Regions from separate parts of the Homo sapiens genome. Here all the other regions are reported to be linked to region 3. Evidence: microRNA targets listed by miRTarBase, many of them from high-throughput screens and not tested one by one. Region 3 holds a microRNA gene; each other region holds the end of a gene's coding sequence.

Region 1 (5,130 bases), not on the chromosome of region 3:
GGAACCGCTTATTTTTCTCCGAAGTTATCAGGAATCTACAAGTTTAGATCTTTTTCTGAAAGTAATTTCCATCTGAGTATCATCTGCTGCCCTCCTGTGTTTGACACAAATATTCTCTCAGATGAGAACAACAAAAACAGAATAGCTCAATTAAATTTATTTGGACGGCACTTTTACTTTCAGATACTTGAAATGTGTTTCCACACAAAACAATTGTGCTGCCTACTAAGATTATTTTTCTTCAATCTTTATTCAATATATTTCAAATTACATTTTTTACTTAGAGTTATATGAGATCTTTCATATTGGTCTGATATTCTTTCAATATAATCTACTAAACTTTTAGTATTTCCATTTAAAAAATCTGAGACAACTTATTTCAAATTATTCTAATACTATTTTTGTATACTAGACCTACTTGGGCAACAGTACAAGACTCTGTACTTCGAAACTAGAAAAACCTGGTTACTAGTTGTGCGATCTTGTGCAAATTACTTTTCTGAACCTGTTTCATTTGCAAAATGAAGACAGTACCTCCCAAAGATCACACAAAACACTTAGCACACCATAAAAATGCTCAATATGTTAGCTGTTATTAATACTATAGGAAACATGCTTTCAAATGGCTCTTCTTTGGTATTACCTATTATGGTAAAGTTAAAGACTGCCTAAGAACATGAATTAGCATGGGCCCAATATATCACCTGGATTAAGCCCTGTCCTTTGATATTCAACACTCAAGATTTATTGGACACCTGGGATGTGTTAGACATCATTCTAGATACTTAGGATATATTGGTTTGTAAAAAAGACCAAAATCCTTGCCTTTGTGAAACCTCACTCTTCATGGAGGTCTTTAAGTTACTGACTTCCTTCTAAATTCTTACTGTACATGTTACTCATTTCTTTACATATGCTATCCCATACCATATATCCAGTCCTTTCCTCTCTATCTCCAATGCAGGCTGTCATCTCTCTTGTTCTACTGCTACAGCCTTGAATTGGGGACAGGAGCTCACTCTAATGACACTTTGTATACCTTTATCAAGTTTTGTAAGGATGGTGACTTAGTTTGACTCTGCTACTCTTTAAAGAGGAAAAAAAATTAGTGTTGACATTTTTATTTAATTGCCAATTATTACAATCTATTTTCTTTTACATTACCCCAGTCTGTTCTCAACACAGCAGCCAGAGGGATCATCTGAAACCACAGTTCAACTGTTTTTCTTGAAGCGATGGCCCATTTCATTCTTTTTTTGTTTTTGTTTTTGTTTTTTTGAGATGGAGTCTCGTTCTGTCGCCCAGGCTGGAATGCAGTGGCACGATCTCGGCTCACTGCAAGCTCCGCCTCCCGGGTTGACACCATTCTCCTGCCTTAGCCTCCCCAGCAGCTGGGGCTACAGGTGCACGCCGCTACGCCCAGGTAATTTTTGTATTTTTAGTAGAGATGGGGTTTCACTGTGTTAGCCAGGATGGTCTCAATATCCTGACCTTGTGATCCACCCGCCTCAGCCTCCCAAAGTGCTGGGATTACAGGCATAAGCCACCACGCCCGGCAATTTCATCCATTTTTGATAAAATATCTGCCAGATACCCAAGTGTAAACAACCATAGTTTAATCTCCTATAGTCATTCTTTCCAGTAAAAATGGTAAGAAAGAAATCCCAGGGAAACTGAAGCCAAAACTATTTTCATAAAAGTAAGATTTTACTTGCCTTTCTTACCATTAACATTTGCACAGATGGTGCAAAAGCAATAGTGATAAAACTACCAGCACTTAGCATGAATCAATGGAGGGGCACAAAAATGTATTGCTAGTCATTGTATACTTCATTGCCATGCACCCTCAGTAAAAACAAAAACAAAAAACCTCAGTTTCACTTAAGAATGTGCTTGATGAAGCAGTAAAAATTGCTAACTTTATGAAATCTTAGCCCTTAAGATGTCTTTTAATATTCTGTGTGATGAAATTCATAATATGCATAAAGCATTTCTGCTGCCTACCAAAGGACAATAGTTTTCTCAAGGAAAAACACTTTTTATTATTTGAGTTGCAAATTGAATTGGCTGCCTTTTTTTTTTTTTTCTCAAGGCACATATTTACAAGAAAAAAATGACAAACTGTATCTTGTTACTCAGACTTGGGTATGTATTGGGTATGTATTTGGCAGACATTTTCTTGAAAATGAACCAAGTGGGCCTTTCACTTAAAGGAAAACAATAATATTTGCTATCAACCTCATGCTTGATAGCTTGATCAAGTTCAAGCTATCAAGTAAAAACTTAAACTTGTGGAAAACTTATACCTTCACAGTAGGTCTTTCAGTTTCCCAATACTATAAAACCTTCCTGAGACAGGGATGATATTACTCAATGTGATTTTTGATATGTATAATGAATGTAACAACATTTGGAAGGTCTGTATAACTCAGTAACCCATTACTTTTCAGATGACTGATGCATGATGTTCCAAATCAGGTATGGGTAAAAGATCCATTCAAAGCTCAACATACATGAATGAATTTTAATGGAACAGAATAAAAAGTTCATTAAACCAGTTTCAGATTCCATGTTGTAACTAACCTTTAAGAAACTACCACTTGTTGGGTTTTAGTATAATATCAAAGAAGTATATGTACATCTATTTGAAAAAGTTAAATATTGCTCCTATACTAAATATTTATGAGAAGTGGATTTTTTCATACTTCGACAAAAATTTCATATCCCAACAGTTTGAATGCAAAAGCAAATATGGGAATCAAGCTGTCCTCTATTAAGCCAAACACAGAAGACCTCTGAAAAACCGGTTTTTCTTAAAAGCCATTCTTCTCACTAAATTATGTCTTGGTAAATTGCCATTTTTCATAAAACAAAAAAAGTTTTTGTTAACATGAAATGGTTTTATTATCATTATTTTTACCATTGACCTTTCTGAGAATTTTCATTATTTTTCAATGAATTAAAACTTTTGTTTTCATTTCTATGGTGGTGAATATCAATAGCCACAATCCACATAAACAGAGGCTCTTTGGTGTCTTCTACAATTTTCTAGTGTAACGAAAAGTTAGGAGCAATGACTCACCCCTGTAATCCCAGCACTTTGGGAGGCTGAGGTGGGTGGATTGCTTGAGCCAGGAGTTCAAGAGCAGCCCGGGAAACATGAGACCCTCATCTCTACAAAAAAACTAAGAAATGCAAAAATTAGCCGGGCATGGTGGCACGTACCTGTAGTACCAACTACTTGGGAGGCTGAGGTGGGAGGATTGCTTGAGCCTTGGAAGTTGAGGCTGCAGTGGGCCATGATCGTGCCACTGCACTCCAGCCTGGAGTTCCAAAGCCACCACTGAGCTAAGCTATGCCAGGTCACGTGACTTCTCTGCGTAAAAACCTTCCAATGGTCTGCAGTGGTGGCTCACACCTGTAATCGTAGCACTTTGGGAAGCTGAAGTGGGAGGACTGCTTGAGGCCAAGAGTTCAAGACCAACCTGGCCAACATATCAAGATCCATCTCGTGTTTTTAAAAACTAAAATTAAAAAAAACCACAACCTTCCAATGGCTCCTCAGAGGTTCATATATTGTCCTACAAGACTCTACTCTGTTTTCCCCTCCATTACCTGTCCCTCTACTTTTCCCCTTACTCACTCCCTCCAGCCATGCTTGCCTCTTTGAAGTTCCTCCAATAAACCATACATACTCCCAGCGTTAGTACCATTGCACTGGCAGTTCCCTCTTCATGGAAAGCAATTTCTCCAGTTTTCCGCATGGCCATTTCCCTCATTTTCCTGAAGTCTTTGCTCAAATGTCACCATCTCAGTAACTTGTGCATCATATTTAAGATTACAGCCCTACCAGCTACTCCCACCCGCACCACATACATTGTTCTCCCCTCCCCGCAGCATCTTCTAACATTTGCTTATTACATCTAGTGTTTGACCTCCTTTCTCCACCACCAGCATAATGTAAGCCCCAAGAACACGGGAAAATGCCTGTCACATAGAGCTCAACAAATATTTGTTGAATGTAGAATGGATGAACTCGCTTGCCAGCTTGTCATTTCTGGAGACATGGCCACAAATTCCCAAGAAAAAAAAAAGGATGCATTTTAAAGAGGCTAGGGAGGACAATGACAGCAAAGACTGCAAAGAGTTTTAAAACAGGAGAAAAAGAAGATGGGATACAATAACCACAAATTTCAATACTGAAGGCATTGTGGGCCTGAAAATAACGCTCTTGGGAAAAGTGGCAGTCGGGGAATTAATTATAAAGGTAGACACGGCGGATCTAAGTGCCTGGCCATGGACACTGGCATGCGCTCCCTCACCCAAACCCACTTCCCGCTCAGCTCTTTCCGGAGCCTTCCACCCTAACACAGAAAGTTCACACCAAGAGACTGAACGATTTCTAAACTTTATGGAAAAAGCCAATGACAATCAATTAGCCAAAAACGAGACGCCAAATCCCATCTCACTCCAGCGCCATGCCCTCTTCTCAAACGCTCGCCGGCTCTAGGACCTCTCCACCAGCACAGTTCTCAGGAGTCCTGCTGGTCTCCCAGTGCTGTTCTAAGGGTCCACATGAAGGCAGGTCAGGCGGGACTCCCCGGGCAAGCACTTCTGTACGCGGAAAGCACGAGGCGCAGGAGCCATGGAGAGCCGGTCCTTTGGAGACAGGAATACTTAAGAGGATTGGCAAACCGGAGAAACGCTGGGAGAGGTGCCCCGCACTGCGGTGGTAAGGCAGAGTCTCAGTTCTCCTCGGGCTTGTCGGCTGGCGGTCCACAAGGCTGAAGCATCTTTTCCATCAAGTTGAAGCGGACTCGCGCTTTGCTCTCATTCTCCGCAATGGCGAAGTAGTTGAGAAGGTCGAAGTGGCCCATGTAGGAGCAGTACGAGTCGCGGTGTTGGTTCACCAGCCACTCCCACTTGGTGGTGTCGGCGTGGCCCGTGCCGATGTACTTGGACTGCAGGTGCTCCAGCTGGCTATGGATGGTGTAGCGGTCAGTCATCTCGCCGCTTTCCCCTTCGCTCTCAGGTCAGAGGACGCAGGTAACAACTCGCCGCTCTAGCGTTTTACAGGAGAGTGAAGCCACCGCGCGGAAGCTCCAGGTCCGCGCCGTCGCAGAAGAATGG
Region 2 (5,152 bases), not on the chromosome of region 3:
CCCAGCTAGTGCCTTCCCGCCCCGCCGAGCTAGGCCAGCAGGAGCTTCTGCGGAAAGCGGGGACCCTCCAGGATGACGTCCGCGATGGCGTGGCCCCAAACGGCTCTGCCCAGCAGTTGCCGCAGACCATCATCATCGGCGTGCGCAAGGGCGGCACGCGCGCACTGCTGGAGATGCTCAGCCTGCACCCCGACGTGGCGGCCGCGGAGAACGAGGTCCACTTCTTCGACTGGGAGGAGCATTACAGCCACGGCTTGGGCTGGTACCTCAGCCAGATGCCCTTCTCCTGGCCACACCAGCTCACAGTGGAGAAGACCCCCGCGTATTTCACGTCGCCCAAAGTGCCTGAGCGAGTCTACAGCATGAACCCGTCCATCCGGCTGCTGCTCATCCTGCGAGACCCGTCGGAGCGCGTGCTATCTGACTACACCCAAGTGTTCTACAACCACATGCAGAAGCACAAGCCCTACCCGTCCATCGAGGAGTTCCTGGTGCGCGATGGCAGGCTCAATGTGGACTACAAGGCCCTCAACCGCAGCCTCTACCACGTGCACATGCAGAACTGGCTGCGCTTTTTCCCGCTGCGCCACATCCACATTGTGGACGGCGACCGCCTCATCAGGGACCCCTTCCCTGAGATCCAAAAGGTCGAGAGGTTCCTAAAGCTGTCGCCGCAGATCAATGCTTCGAACTTCTACTTTAACAAAACCAAGGGCTTTTACTGCCTGCGGGACAGCGGCCGGGACCGCTGCTTACATGAGTCCAAAGGCCGGGCGCACCCCCAAGTCGATCCCAAACTACTCAATAAACTGCACGAATATTTTCATGAGCCAAATAAGAAGTTCTTCGAGCTTGTTGGCAGAACATTTGACTGGCACTGATTTGCAATAAGCTAAGCTCAGAAACTTTCCTACTGTAAGTTCTGGTGTACATCTGAGGGGAAAAAGAATTTTAAAAAAGCATTTAAGGTATAATTTATTTGTAAAATCCATAAAGTACTTCTGTACAGTATTAGATTCACAATTGCCATATATACTAGTTATATTTTTCTACTTGTTAAATGGAGGGCATTTTGTATTGTTTTTCATGGTTGTTAACATTGTGTAATATGTCTCTATATGAAGGAACTAAACTATTTCACTGAAAAAAAAAAAAAGATTTTTTCTGGAGACGCTATGTTTTTTTGAATATAATTAACTTGCCCCCAACTCAAAATAGCTGTCTGTGTTGCAATCATTGCAAAATCTAAATTCTTTTGTTACTTAAAAAAACATGTTTTTCATGGCTATTACAATCCTCTCTCTCCCCTCTCCTTTCTGCATTGCTCTTTTTAATTTTTAATGTCTCATTGTGATCATCAGATTTATTTTTACTTGGATTGTAAGATTTATCTCCTCGGCGATTCCTTGTCATTTTTGGAGGTCACAGTTTTACTCATTCCCATGTGTAAACTTCAAGTAAACAAAGCAATATTCAGGATGGAGAAGCAGTTAGTGACTGGCTAGAGGTCTCTTGGGATCCATCTTGACCTCAAAGAATATTTGCACATGCTTCTGATCTCAGCAGTTATAATAAAGAGGATTAAACCCTTGGCCTTCAGAATGATCTTGGACCTGGATACTTTGCCCCAGGTGGCAGCTGGCCTCCAGAAAGCCAATTAGAATAGAAAAGAGAAACTGCGAAATCTATGCGTGTCTTCATCCTGTCGGTTCTGTGAAAGGCTGACTAAAAGGGTAGTAGTCTTTTGCTTAGTCTGAAAGTCTGCTTACTTCCTGAAAGACACATTGGCATTATAGACATATATTCCATATGCACTGAGACATAAATATGTGTATGTTTCAAAATCAACTCTAAATTTGGAGTCCTGAATGTGAAAGAAAAAGTAAGTTCCCAAGTGTTGAAGTTAAAAAGAGAAAAGGGCAGAGTTGAAGGTAGCACCTAAGAGAACCACTGTACCTGCCCCCAGAGGAGTGGCTGGAGTTCAGTTTTACTTCTGCCCCTGAGCAGCCAGCTTGTTGGAGATGGTCACATAAACCCTTCTTATCCTCAGTTTTTTCATGCATTCTTCATGCAGTCAGCCTTTTACAGAATTAAACCCATTGGATTTTAATAAAAATAAAACATTCATTACAGTAAAAGAGAAAATACAAACAAGCAAAATAAACCGGCTTCCTGACATGGTTTATACCGCAGGAAAATGACAGAAATGGACGTTATTAATCATCTCCTACACTTAAGAACTCATTGAAATTTCTCCAAGCAACCCCAGGATGCAGATATTATTATGGAAATTTCAAAGAGGAGGAATTAGGCCCAGAGAACATGAGAAACTTGCCCAAGGTCACATTGACTATAAACTCAGGCTTAGAGGCTACTCAGAGCCAAAGCACAGGTTATTTATGTATTTAGTTTTTACCCAACTCTTTCTGAACTCAAAAGGAAAAGCCCAGACTCAGAGCCAGTTCTTCCTGACCTGACTTAACATTTCTTCCCAGGTGCCAAATATCTTCCATCCTAAGAGGTGTGTCCCAGATACAGGAAGGGCAAGAAGAAGCCTGCATTTTTCTCAGCAGTGTTATCAGGGAAGTGAGTCACCTTGGTACGTTTCAGCAGCTCCAGCCTGACCTGACCTTAGCATGGCCTATGCCCCACCCCATATCATGAACAGAGAGCAGAGAGGATGCCTTCCTCTTTAGAATCCATTGAAGTTGTCATTAAGCCATCATCTCCCCCAGAGGAAGTAGCAGAAATATTTACAGCAGGCCCCTGGTGGACATGGTACTTTTCAATAGGCAGAGAGCCTCCCTCTGCAGCACATCGTTGGATCTTGCTTTTACCATACTCCTTGAAGAGCTGAAGAAATAAGAGGGCCCAGCAAGGTTAAGTCAAGTTTCCAAGCCTGTTCAGGAATATGGTGACTGAAAGGAAACTGCAATGAGAGTCTCTGACTGAAGAAGATGCTCTTTGCAAACTGCCTGTAAATTCCTGTCCCCTGACAGGGATGGTCTGGTAGAAGCATGAACTGTGGATGCAAGAGGCAGCGGGGAGGAGTGGAGGAAGACAGGACCAGCACATGGAATATAATCTAGCTGCTGGGACTGGCATAGTCGATGGAGGCGGTGGTCCAGTGTAAAATGATCAGTGAATGTAAATTCAATATGTTTTCATTTGGGGGTGCAGAGTCGTGGCTAAAGGAATGTTCAAATGAGTCTACCATGAGCAAGGGATCAGAGGTCCTAGTGGCACTATCTGTTCATTCATTTTTGGTACAACCCCAGCCAGTCATTGAGAAGGTACACTGTGTAAGAAACCATCACTCCAGACTTACCCAAGGTATTTATTGCTAGATCTCACCAAGCACTGTCAAATTCAAAGGAGGCCCTGTAGTAGACCCTGGGCTGTCCTTACAGGGCCAAAATGCAGTGACTCAGGAGCCTAATAGCACCCGGTCCCTCCAAAACATGCCTTCTACCAATTCCATTAACAGAGACAGGTGTCAGTGGAAGGGGTGGGTCTCCTGTCCAGACCACCCCGGCCCGGGAGCAGCCTGGGGGATCTAGGTGGGTCCTTCCAGAGAGGCAAGTGAGAACAACTGAACCAAGCCTCAGCTATTAGATTTGGAATATTCACACACTTGACACTCCAGAGTCAGAACAGCCCCTTCCCTTTCCCTTCCTCCTGGAATCAGATAGGGTTGAAATCCTTTTAACACCATTTGGTTATCAGCTCACAACCTGAAGGTTTGCAAGTTTAGGAAAAGTGACATGCCTCTGAGCACAGGGTGCTTTACTCCTTCTGTGCTTGGAGGCTTACCCAACTGAAAGGAGATGGAGGGCAGGAGAGGCCGATGCCTAGCGTGCCTGCTGCTTACAGGGGTGGTGTCACAGGTCACCATTATTCATTAAAATTTTACTTTTTTGATCCCCTACCACATGCTCAACATGGTATTGAGTCCTCAAGAATATAAAAAGAAAATACAACAGGAACCAGTAGTCATTAACTGTTTGTTCTGGACTTTAATAAAAGTACAGAGGGTCTTGGAGTACAAAGGCAAAGACATTTAGCTGTGTATAGAATGGGTGGGGGAATGTGTTCCATGGTTTGGCATTCAGTTCAGCAACATTCCTGAGAGAAATCAACTAGCCCCCTTATAGAGAAGAGGAAACTGAGATTTAAAAAGTGGTCCTGGCCGGGTGTAGTGGCTCACGCCTGTAATCCCAGCACTTTGGGAGGCCAAGACAGGTGAATCACGAGGTCAGGAGTTCAAGACCAGCCTGACCAACATGGTGAAACCCCATCTCTACTAAAAATACAAAAATGTGCCAGGCATGGTGGCGAGTGCCTGTAATCCCAGCTACTCAGGACACTGAGGCAAGAGAACCACTTGAACCTGGCAGGTGGAGGTTGCAGGGGGCCGAGATGATGCCACTGCACTCCAGCCTGGGCAACAGAGCAAGACTCCATCTCAAAAAAAAAAAAAAAAAAAAAAGATAAATTAATAATAAAAAAATAAAAAAGTAATCCTGACTTCAAGTCATTTTTTTCAGAAGAAAGGATTCTTGCTCACTCCAGGGAAATAGTCCAGAAATGGAAAATGTTGACATCACAAATCACAAAAGAAGGTGAAAAATATCAGAGACCCTCTCCAGAATGTCATTTCTCAGAAATATTAAGAAATAGAGAATCTTCCCAGAGGTCGCATGTCAGGGCAGGTCACTTAACTTGTGGGCCACAGAGACCCTGACCTTCCTGTGGGAAGGCTTCATGGAGGAATTGCCATAAAGCTGGGGCACGCACGAATGGCAGTAGTGTCACCAGAGCAGGGCATTCTGAACAAGGGAAGCTTGAGACATGAAGACAGTGGTCACGGGGAGAGGCTGGGGGTAGAGGGTAGAGGTAGGCAAGAGATTTGTCTGAGTGGCATGTCAAATGTGTTAAACTCAATGAGAAGCTACTGCTTTCCAAGGCTGGAGTGTTGGAAGCTTACTTAGCAGGCACCCATGTGAATTTGGCTCCTGTGCAGGTGTATCTGTTGCATAAAAATAGCTATCATTTGTTGCACACCTGCCATGTGCTTGGTATTTTAAATATATTGCTTCTAACCTATATAACAACCCTAGGAAGTAGAAAATGGGCTACTAATTTTACAGAA
Region 3 (5,148 bases):
ATATGGGTAGTTTGCTTTGGCAAGTCAGAGACTTAAGCAGGGAAAGCGAGAGAACAGTAAGCAAGAAAAATATACTGCAGGCTATAGATTGGACATGAAGAGAGACAGTATTGAAGGCAAGTAAATTCGGTAGAAGGATTCAAATGCACTGTTTCCTGTTATCTCAGTGACAGAAAAAAAAAAAAAAAAAAAGGATTCAAATGCAGTACAGCAGAGAAACCATGAGAACCAGAACTGGGTATAAGTGAAAACAGAAGACAGGAGAGGTTAGTTCTGACAGACACTTGGTAATAAGACTCTACAAGGGCTTTAGACTAAAGAAGTGATGACCGGGTGGGGCCAAGGATATGGAATCAGGGATGGGTATATGATTCATAGAAACAGGAAAGTTTGGGGGGTCTAGTTTGCTGATAATTTCACCCTTAATTTCCTTTCAAGCAAGGGGAAACTGAGGCTCTGAAAAGTAAGGCGATCCAGGGGCACAGAAGATACTTAGGCTACTTTCCGAACACAAAGCCTGGGGTTACAGGGGCTGCTACAACAGAGCCGGCTTCGAAGCGGGGCTAAGGTGGCCGAACCACACTCATCTAGCGTGTGCCTGGCAGGGAACCAGGCCTGGGACAGACCTGACAGCCATGAGGTTTCCTCCTTTTTCGCCTCTGCCTTTACTCACCAGCGCCACGGCGTCTGCACCCAGCTACCACTAACCTCGCGCCGCGGTACTCACACACGCGGAGACCAGGATACCCACAGTCCAGTGCAATTCTTCCGGAAGTGTGGGCGGGCTCAACACCCTACTTCCGTTGCTGTGTTGCGGAGGTGACCTAGAGACAGGAATCGGAAGGGCGGGATTTGGAGCCATAGCCAATCGTCGCATTAGGCCGAATCGCGGGGGCCGGCTAAACGCGTGCGGGGGAGGTGGCTTCTTCCGGCCGGGCCGAGAGGTGGTTACATTCGTTGAAGGACACCAGCTGCGGAATTTGCGGCTTTGGCAGGTGGGTGAAGAGGGGAGTCCGGGCTTGGACCTGGCGCCTGCACGTTGCAGGACCGCCCGCCGTTTCTGGCCGAGGAGCAACTCGAGTTCTTAGCTTTGGAGGAGAGAAACGGTGGGGAATGGGAAAGGAGCTAGAAAAAACGAGGGGCGCAAGGGGGCGGCCAGCGGGTGAGAAGCCTCGAGGTGAGGCGGATAGGTGCGCCCAAGGGCTCCCACAGTTTCCGAAGACCCTTAGATTGCATTCGCCAGTGGAGAAAAATGAGGCCCTCCGCGAAGCGTCCCTCGAGGTCACCCAGTGACGTAATATTGGACGAGGACTAGGGCTTCTGATCCCCATCACCGGCCGAATTAACCTCTTTTCTTCTGTATGTCCATAGCTGTTTGTTCCCACCGAGCTGTGCTTTAGGAAGCTGGCCAGCCGGGCCTCCTTTAGGTGCGCTGCAGCCTTTTTCAAAGCGAGTGAATGTGGCCCGGCCCCTACAGTTCGCCAGGCCCGCTGTAAAAGGGTTAGATTTCAGTCTATAGACGATCAGTGGGAAGGCCTTTCCTAGGAGGTAACCAGAACAGAGAGCTGTAAACTCCGTGAATGCAAGAGGCTGCTTCTGTTACCTGAGTGGTTCTCACTCATCTTTGCCTTCCTTACCTCGTGATCTCACCATTCCAGGTAGGTGTTAAGTTAGAAAGGAAAATAGCAATATCGAGGAACAGAGAAAGTAACAAGAGCTACTGGTCACTTTGGACCTTTAATAAAGTGCCCATCTCACAGGTGGAGAGAGGCACGGAAGGATTAGTTACATTTAAGAGCAGTTAGTGGCCGGGCGCGGTGGCTCACGCCTGTAATCCCAGCACTTTGGGAGGCCGAGGCGGGTAGATCACCTGAGGTCCAGAGTTCGAGACCAGCCTGAGTAGTATGGTGAAACCCCGTCCCTACCAACAATACAAAAATTAGCCGGGCGTGGTGGCGCGCGCCTGTAGTTCCAGCTACTCGGGAGGCTGAGGCAGGAGAACCGCTTGACCCCGGGAAGCGGAGATTGCAGTGAGCTGAGATCGCGCCACTGCACTCCAGCCTGGACGACAGAGCGAGACCTTGTCTCAAGAAGGGCAGTTAGCAACTTAATTAAAACATACCACCGTTTAACAACATTAAATCACAACTAGGAGTCTTACAAAGGGCACTGTAAACACAAGGGTTCCTTTATCTTTGCCCTAAAGTAACCTGCACCGTGCTGAAGAGTGCAGAACCAAATTTTTCGACCTTACTCCATTATCTCACCAGCAACAATCCCGTTCCCCATTTGGCCCTCCATTTGAGCCTCTCAAGAGTCCTCCTCCTTTAAGACCCAGACTAACTTGAGTGATTGATTTCAGTTCTTGAACCATGCACTTCCCTGCAATCAGAATTAGTCTTCTGTGGGATATCACAAAACATCAGCCTTCCTCCCATATTGTGTGTAAATTAAAGGGAAATTTAAAGCGCTGTAGTATTGTTGGGCATATCCTCCTAAAAAGTTTAGTTAGATGTAATGTAGTGGAGGTTTTCGTTAATGGTCAAAGTGAAGCCCTTATTTTCTGTAGCGTTTCTCCTAAAAACCTACTTCAAACCCTAAGAAGTGAATCCAAAAATGTATCATGAAATGAATGGAGCTGGTGGGGGGGCGGGGGGCGGGGGGAAGTATGTCTTTAGTAAGTTTAGTAAAGTGGAACAGTTGATAGCTACATTATAAAGTTGCTTTTATCGCTTCTGTTGGCTAAGATCAAGTGTATAAAGTTATTTTTAATGGAGATTTTCCTACTTGGGCTAGACTGGCCAAGGTCTCTGAAGAGGCCTAAGGAAGTTTGGATTTCCTTCATTGCTCCAAGAACCTTCTTGAAACTTGAAAATTAAGGTCATTTTTCTCAAATTTTCATTGCCAATTCTTTACACAAGAATGCCTCTGAAAGCCTTTGAATGGGGGAGTTCCAGTTTCCATAGTAATGACTCCCTGACAGATATCTCCCTCTTCCATTTCATCAAGACCCAGCTGAGTCACTGTCACTGCCTACCAATCTCGACCGGACCTCGACCGGCTCGTCTGTGTTGCCAATCGACTCGGCGTGGCGTCGGTCGTGGTAGATAGGCGGTCATGCATACGAATTTTCAGCTCTTGTTCTGGTGACCTTTTGAATACGTCTTGTCTATAAAAGAAATTCATGCCTTTGTAAAATACACAGGTACTATAGATTAAGCTGCCTTTGCTATATATTCTTCCAGAGTTTTTTTTAATACACTTACTATTTTTCTATTTCATTTACTGCAGTATTTTTCAAACTTTAGCATGCTTTAGAATTATCTAGAAGCCTTATTAAAATAGATTCCTGGACCCAGAGTTTCTGATTCAATAGGTAGGGCCTAAGAATTTGCACTAACAAGTTTCCAGTGATGCTAATGCTGCTGGTCTAGGGACAAGACCCAGAACCATTGACGTGCTTTATAAAATCCAGAAATAAGATTTTTTCTTACAAAATTGAACGTTACTTGGGACATCTTCCCATGTCAGTACACAAAGATCTGTGCCTGTTGTGTGTCGTTTAATGGAAACCATCATTTTTTAATCAGTCTTCTATAGATGGACTTTTAAGATTTTCATAAACAGTATTTCATTGACCATCTTTGAACCACACAATGTGTTTCCACTTTGTAATATTTCAATAAGGGTAAATTCCTGGAGAAAAACACCAGCTAGATGAAAGGGTATACTCATTTTATAATTCGATAAGATACTGCCAACTTGCACTTTCTGAAGGTTGTACCAGTTTATTTATTTTTTATTTATTTATTTTTTTTTTTTTTGAGACGGCGTCTCGCTCTGTCGCCCAGGCTGGAGTGCAGTGGCGCAATCTAGGCTCACTGCAAGCTCCGCCTCCCAGGTTCATGCCATTCTCCTGCCTCAGCCTCCCGAGTAGCTGGGACTACAGGCGCCCACCACCACGCCCGGCTAATTTTTTGTATTTTTAGTAGAGACAGGGTTTCACCGTGTTAGCCAGGATGGTCTCGATCTCCTGACCTCGCATCCACCCGCCTTGGCCTCCCAAAGTGCTGGGATTACAGGCATGAGCCACCGTGCCAGGCTGGTTTTACCAGTTTATACTCCAAGCAACAGAGAGAGAATTCTTAGTTTTCTCACATACTTAATACTACTACTTACCATAATTTTATTTTTGCTTGTTTGATGATTAAATATTGATCTCATTTTACATTTCTTTGACTAATAGGTTTTATGTTTTTTTTGGTTTTTGGCTTTTTTTCTTAATATTTTCCCTTCCCTGAGATGACTTAAATATTTCCCCATGTTTTCTTCCAGGACTTTTTGGTTTCACTATTTACATTTAAATCTTTTATCTATTTTGGTGGTGGTGCAAGGATTCCAGCTTCCTTACTACCACCAGTAGCTATTATTAACTCCATTTAATAAATTATCCCTTCTCCCTTCTCCCATGGAGGTCCTAAATTACTTATAACAAGAAAAATTGTATAAGTAGGGGTTGTAATTGAGCTGTTTAGTTGATGGTCACCCGTTGAATGTTTGAAAAATACCAGCTCCAATTTTTGAGTAGCCTTAAAATGGATTAATTCAATGGACTGTGGTGTGATGGAGCCAGGAATGAAAATATTAAGCTGTATTGGGTCAGAGAATGAACTTAGCAGGGGCTATTGTGTGATTTGATGTATTCTGAGGTGTTCATGAAATAGCGATCAAGGTAAAATCCTACTTCCAAAAGCTTTTCTTTCAGGAAGGCTTTTTCCACCATCTTTGCTACTACTGTGTTGGGTGAGATATAGATAAAAATTTACAGTATTTATATGCAGTGACCTTGAGTTTTTAGACTAAAACAAGACAAAATTTATTTACTTTTAAATTACATCCAAACCAATTTAATGTTGCTTTCTTTCTTTTTTTAAAAGATTGAAATCATGGCAGGTCCAGAAAGTGATGCGCAATACCAGTTCACTGGTATTAAAAAATATTTCAACTCTTATACTCTCACAGGTAGAATGAACGTAAGTATTGATAACTTTAAGCAGTTATATTTTAAAATAATATAGATGGAACAACAAGTCTTGTTTACTTTTTTCTTTCTTTCTCAGTGTGTACTGGCCACATATGGAAGCATTG
Region 4 (5,152 bases), not on the chromosome of region 3:
GTAGCCATTATAACAAAGCATCCTGATTACCGATACTGGCAAAACCAAACCAAAAGCAAACCACAATCAGCATCAGGTTGTTTTAAGTTCCATCTGTTGTCTGTTTTTAAGGGGAAGGAGGTGGTCTTAGGGCATTGCCCATATTTTTTTGAGAAATCATCGGTACATTTTTAAAAAATATGTTCATACTTTATCCAGCATTATCTAAGTATCTTATAATGGAAGAGCTTATTAGTTTTATAAATACCTATATTACCAATAACAGAAGAGCTGGAAATACCACCATAGAGATTTCCAATTTATAAAAATACCAAGTGAAACATGTCTTAAATAGATTGTTAGCCATCTTGACATCAACTTCAAAAGATCAGAAATTATCTCTCAGATTTCTTAATTTTTTTTTTTTTTTGAGATGAAGTCTTGCTTCGTCACCCAGGCTGGAGTTCAGTGGCGTGATCTCGGCTCATTGCAACCTCTGCCTCCCGGGTTCAAGCGATTCTCCTGCCTCAGCCTCCCCAGTAGCTGGGATTACAGGAATGAACCACCACGCCCAGCTAATTTTGCATTTTTAGTAGAGACTGGGTTTTACCATGTTGGCCAGGCTGGTCTCCAACTCCTGATCTCAGGTGATCTACCCACTTCAGCTCCCAAAGTGCTGGGATTACAAGCATGAGCCACCACACCTGGCCTAGATTTCTTGATTTCTTGCAATGAATTAGTATGGACTTACTATATGTGAACCTTTTTAAACATTTTTAACGCTGTTTTTATTTTCAAATTGCGTTTTTCTGTCTTTTAACATTAACAGTGGCCTCTTTTGAAAACTCTCTTGACCCTGCTGCCTCTTTAAGTCCTTTACTCAGTCAATTAACAAAAATTTGAGTACCTATTGTGTACCAGGCCTTTTTCTGAGTGACGGTAACAGTTTTGAAGAAAACTACCTAAATCCCTGTCCTTGTTTGTGGAGCTTGTATCTTAGTGGATGTAGACAAATATATAAATATGTCAAGTGAATCACTTGTCAGCCTCTTGGCTAAGAATAATTGTAAATACATCAGGTGGTGAAATATTTACATTGAGTGATATGAAGAAACGCAAAGCAGAACAACAGGTCAAGGAGTGACAATCTGGTTGGGGCCATGAATGGGAGTGACTGCTCTTTTATATAAGGTGGTCAGTAAAGTTCTTTGGACAAAGTGGCATTTGAACAGTCTTAAAGGATAGGAGAGGTATACATGGAACACTAGCATTCCAGACAGAGGGAACTGCAAATGCAAGAGATCTGAGGCAGGAACATGCTTGACTGCTCCAAGGAGGCCAGTGTGCCTGAGAAGAGTGAGTTGGACAGTGGTAAGAAATAAGGTCAGAAGGTCAGAGAAGCCATCTCTCCACATATACCCTCCTCATCCAGTCCATGACTGTACCCTCCCCAGTGTCTCTTGCATCATCTCTCAGCCCTGCATGATCTTAGTTCAGGCCTCAATCATCCTTGTTTTGTTTATCTGAGATTGTCTACTACAACACTTCCCAAATATAGGTGCTCAATATATGTTTGATAACTTTTTTTTTTTTTTTGAGACAGAGTTTTGCTCTTGTTGCCCAGGCTGGAGTGCAACCTCCGCCTCCTGGGTTCAAGCGATTCTCCTGCCTCAGCCTCCCAAGTAGCTGGGGTTACAGTCATGCGCCACCACGCCCAGCTAATTTTGTATTTTTAGTAGAGATGGGGTTTCTCCATGTTTGTCAGGCTGGTCTCAAACTCTCAACCTCAGGTGATCTGCCTGCCTCGGCCTCCCAAAGTGCTGGGATTACAGGCGTGAGCCACTGCGCCCAACCTGATAACATTTTTAATTACTTTTCCAGAATATGTTGTCTTGGCTGGCCCCTCAGTGAGCACCTAATGGAACGTGTATCCCTGAATTTCATTTCCTTTGGCATTACAACCTCTGGTATGAAACTTTGTGATAATAAATACAGTTACGTTCACACACAAATTTGACAGACTAGACCACTTTTTTATTACAGCTTAATTGGCACATGGTTCACTGAAGATACACTTCACTTTTACATAGGCTTGTAAATAGAAAAATACATTGATGCACAAAAAATATAGTACTTCAATACCAAACTTAAATGATTTCCAAAAAGAATACAGGTTATTTCAATAATTAAAGGTGGCTTTTGTGTGTGCACTATATCATGTATACACTTAATTGTATGTTTAAGGCCAGTGGAATCTATAGCTAATTACTCATTTGGTTCTTGAAAACTGAAACATGCAAACATTCTTATTTTTATGTTTAAAGACATTTAATGTGTTATTCTAACACAAATACACCATATAGAATATGCCCTGATATGTAGCTGTAAAATTATGTTGTACTGCACTGAAGTCTTATGGCAACTATATAAGGCACTGCTGTGTGATTATGACCCTGCTCTTTTTTTTTTTTTTTTTTTTTGAGACAGAGTCTCCTCTGTCGCCCAGGCTGGAGTGCAGTGGCGCAATCTCGGCTCACTGCAAGCTCCGCCTCCCAGGTTCACGCCATTCTCCTGCCTCAGCCTCCTGAGTAGCTGGGACTACAGGTGCCCACCACCACGCCCAGCCCATTTTTTTTTTTTTTTTTTTTTTAGTAGAGATGGGGTTTCACTGTGTTAGCCAGGATGGTCTCGATCTCCTGACCTCGTGATCCGCCCTCCTCGGCCTCCCAAAGTGCTGGGATTACAGGTGTGAGCCACCGCGCCTGGCCAACCCTGCTCTTGAAATGTCTAAATCTTTTCCTCACTAGCATATACAATTCAAATGCACAGGCCTCCATGACTTCTTTGGAATTTAAAAGAAGCCTTCATTTCAAGGATAGAAATATGTAAAATTTTACCAACCATGGATAAGTTTGTTATGGGAGTAGTGGAAGGACAGTGGAAAAAAAAATAGGTTTTTTCATGATACTTTTATTTTTCCTTTTTTAAAAATAAATTTAGGGGGTACAAGTACAGTTTAGATACATGAATATATTGTGTAGTCGTAAAGTCTGGGCTTCTAGTGTAACCATCACGCAAATATACTTGTATTTTTCTAATTACAGTTCTACCAAACATTTGCCACCACAAAATACAAGTATTTTTATTCTTTATTTAAATTATGGTGAGTGATATTTCTTCCTATATAGCCATTAAGATCTCTGGAAGTTTTGATCTACTTTATTCAAACCACTTTAATAAATAAGACTTTTCACCTAAATGAAATACCTTTGAATTTTATAAACAACTTCCATGAAACATATATTAAAACCACCTTTAATTTGGTATGAAGACACTTTGGCAATGCAGCGGAATAAATGATCTTGGCAAGACCCAGCAAGTACAGTAAATGCTCATGAGCTCTATGAAAAATATAGGCTACAGAATACTTCATTTTTCTTTTATTGAACTACAGTACAAATGTGACTGCTTCAATATGAACATCTATCTTCCACCAAATAGCAAACAGGCATCTTATGTAATTAAAAACTAATTATTTCAATTCCACCAATGGAAAAGCAAAACAAGTTGCAAATATCAACAATACAGAGCCTGCTGGTAAAGATAGAGATGAGTAAGTTATAAGCTAATAAAGCTGCAGCCTGAGGATGCCAGATCAACATTATAAATATGAAGAAAAAGAAACTAAATATTTACTCATCGCAAATAACTCGGCATAAGCACCAGCTATGTTCAGGTGCGGCCAGCACATAGGCCAAGTATAAATGTACAATCACAGTGAACTAAAGCCATAAAATCTAGTTCCCTGACCCTTCAATCAACCATTCAGAGCAATGGGAATATAGCGGGGAGACAGAAGTCCCACTTTGGTTGCTCATATTACATTAAGCCAGCCTGCCCCACCCCAATCCCCTTCCCACCAATAAAAAAGTCACCGTGAGTGTATAATTGGTCAATCCAGTTTATCCAAGGTCTATAGATATAGCCATGATTTGTCCTATATTCATGTTAAATAGAATGCTTACATAAAATTAATACTCAAAGACATTGAGCTGATGTGCATGTATATTCTTATTTAACATTTAAGTGGCTTTAATGGTATTTTAGAATGTCACCTATGGCATGAGTCTTCAAATCTGGATTGAAGACTGTGGCGGTTTTATAACTGCATGTAAGATCTTAAATGTAAGACTCTGGGCCTACCTACATTAAGGCAGGTGACAGTACCCTCATTCATTCTACATAATAAATACACTCTTCTGTGACTGCAAAATTCTGAATCCTTGAATGATTTACTATAATAGGCTAAGGTTGTATAAGGCACTTTTGGCTCTGAAATATTTCTCCTAACTCTCAGGCTGAATCTTAAAGAAATATTTACAAAGCTGCAACAAATTAATTTTAGAACCGGATGCTTTATTCGTAGGTCTAATGGGGATGGTGAGAAGCAATTTGTACACAATGCCCATTAATCTCTCACTGTGCCATGTATCAATCATAGAGAAGATCCCAGGCATGGGCCACCTGAACTACTATGTCGCTTACTTGACTTCTCAACAGCCACATGCCCCTTTCTCCTTTTCTTCACTTAACTGATCCGTAGAGGCATGACCATTTGATCGCACCACTCCTTCAGGAATCCAGGACTTGTCCACACACCGTTCCATTCGCTTCATTATCAGGTCCAGAAGCATCTCAATTGCTTGGCTTATGTTTGTCCCATTGGCAGCACTAGTTTCAAAGTAGGGGATTCTGGAAGACAGAGACAACTGAGGTAACAACATGTGGAGGGAAAGGAGAGTGACCTTTGCTCTTGATAATTCAAATTAGAGAATCGATAGAATACAAATATACAAGATGACAAACATTTTACCACCCCAGAGTACATTAAAAAGTTAAAAAGACAATAAAATACTCACACTGCATTTCCAGTAGATATGCAAAACTGGAAATTTTAGACTCTTCAAAATATCAATTTTTGGCTGGGCGCAGTGGCTCACACCTCCCAGCACTCTGGGAGGCTCAGGTGGGCAGATCACCTGAGGTCAGGAGTTTAAGACCAGCCTGGCCAACATGCGGAAACCCCATCTCTACAAAAAATACAAAAATTAGCCAGGAATGGTGGCATACACCTGTAATCCCAGCTACTGGGGAGGCTGAGGCTCAAGAATCA

What was found. The annotated mature microRNA hsa-miR-1307-3p reads ACUCGGCGUGGCGUCGGUCGUG and lies in region 3 at 3,082-3,103, shown strand. An mRNA with a match to its seed (bases 2 to 7 or 8) in the 3' UTR can be bound and repressed. Matches are read on the target gene's strand: a 7mer-m8 pairs with bases 2 to 8, a 7mer-A1 pairs with bases 2 to 7 and ends in A, and an 8mer does both.
Region 1: the mRNA of SF3B5 is a reported target of hsa-miR-1307-3p. The part of its 3' UTR that is shown has no 7-base or 8-base seed match.
Region 2: miRTarBase lists HS3ST1 as a target of hsa-miR-1307-3p. Seed matches in the 3' UTR shown: 7mer-A1 at 4,414-4,420.
Region 4: miRTarBase lists RAB27A as a target of hsa-miR-1307-3p. Seed matches in the 3' UTR shown: 7mer-A1 at 2,506-2,512.

The regions. Positions count from the first base shown.
Region 1 is chr6:144,090,492-144,095,621 of GRCh38, forward strand. SF3B5 (splicing factor 3b subunit 5) reads right to left here and starts at 5,082. Exons shown (of 1, transcript NM_031287.3): 1 at 4,393-5,082. The coding sequence starts at 5,006. The coding sequence ends at 4,746. RefSeq lists an enhancer at 4,832-5,130.
Region 2 is chr4:11,394,811-11,399,962 of GRCh38, reverse strand. HS3ST1 (heparan sulfate-glucosamine 3-sulfotransferase 1) reads left to right here. Exons shown (of 2, transcript NM_005114.4): 2 at 1-5,152. The coding sequence ends at 881. Among named protein-coding and RNA genes, the nearest start is that of MIR572, 29 kb to the right of the region's middle. RefSeq lists an enhancer at 1,979-3,178.
Region 3 is chr10:103,392,256-103,397,403 of GRCh38, reverse strand. MIR1307 (microRNA 1307) reads left to right here and starts at 3,003; the gene lies at 3,003-3,151. It overlaps ATP5MK (ATP synthase membrane subunit k), which reads left to right and starts at 929. Exons shown (of 5, transcript NM_001206427.2): 1 at 929-995; 2 at 1,372-1,658; 3 at 4,938-5,033; 4 at 5,121-5,148. The coding sequence starts at 4,947. PDCD11 (programmed cell death 11) reads right to left here and starts at 778. Exons shown (of 36, transcript NM_014976.2): 1 at 674-778. RefSeq lists enhancers at 1-294, 952-1,201, 1,352-1,441, 834-1,666.
Region 4 is chr15:55,200,975-55,206,126 of GRCh38, forward strand. It overlaps RAB27A (RAB27A, member RAS oncogene family), which reads right to left. Exons shown (of 7, transcript NM_183235.3): 7 at 1,992-4,731. The coding sequence ends at 4,533. Among named protein-coding and RNA genes, the nearest start is that of RSL24D1, 6.6 kb to the left of the region's middle.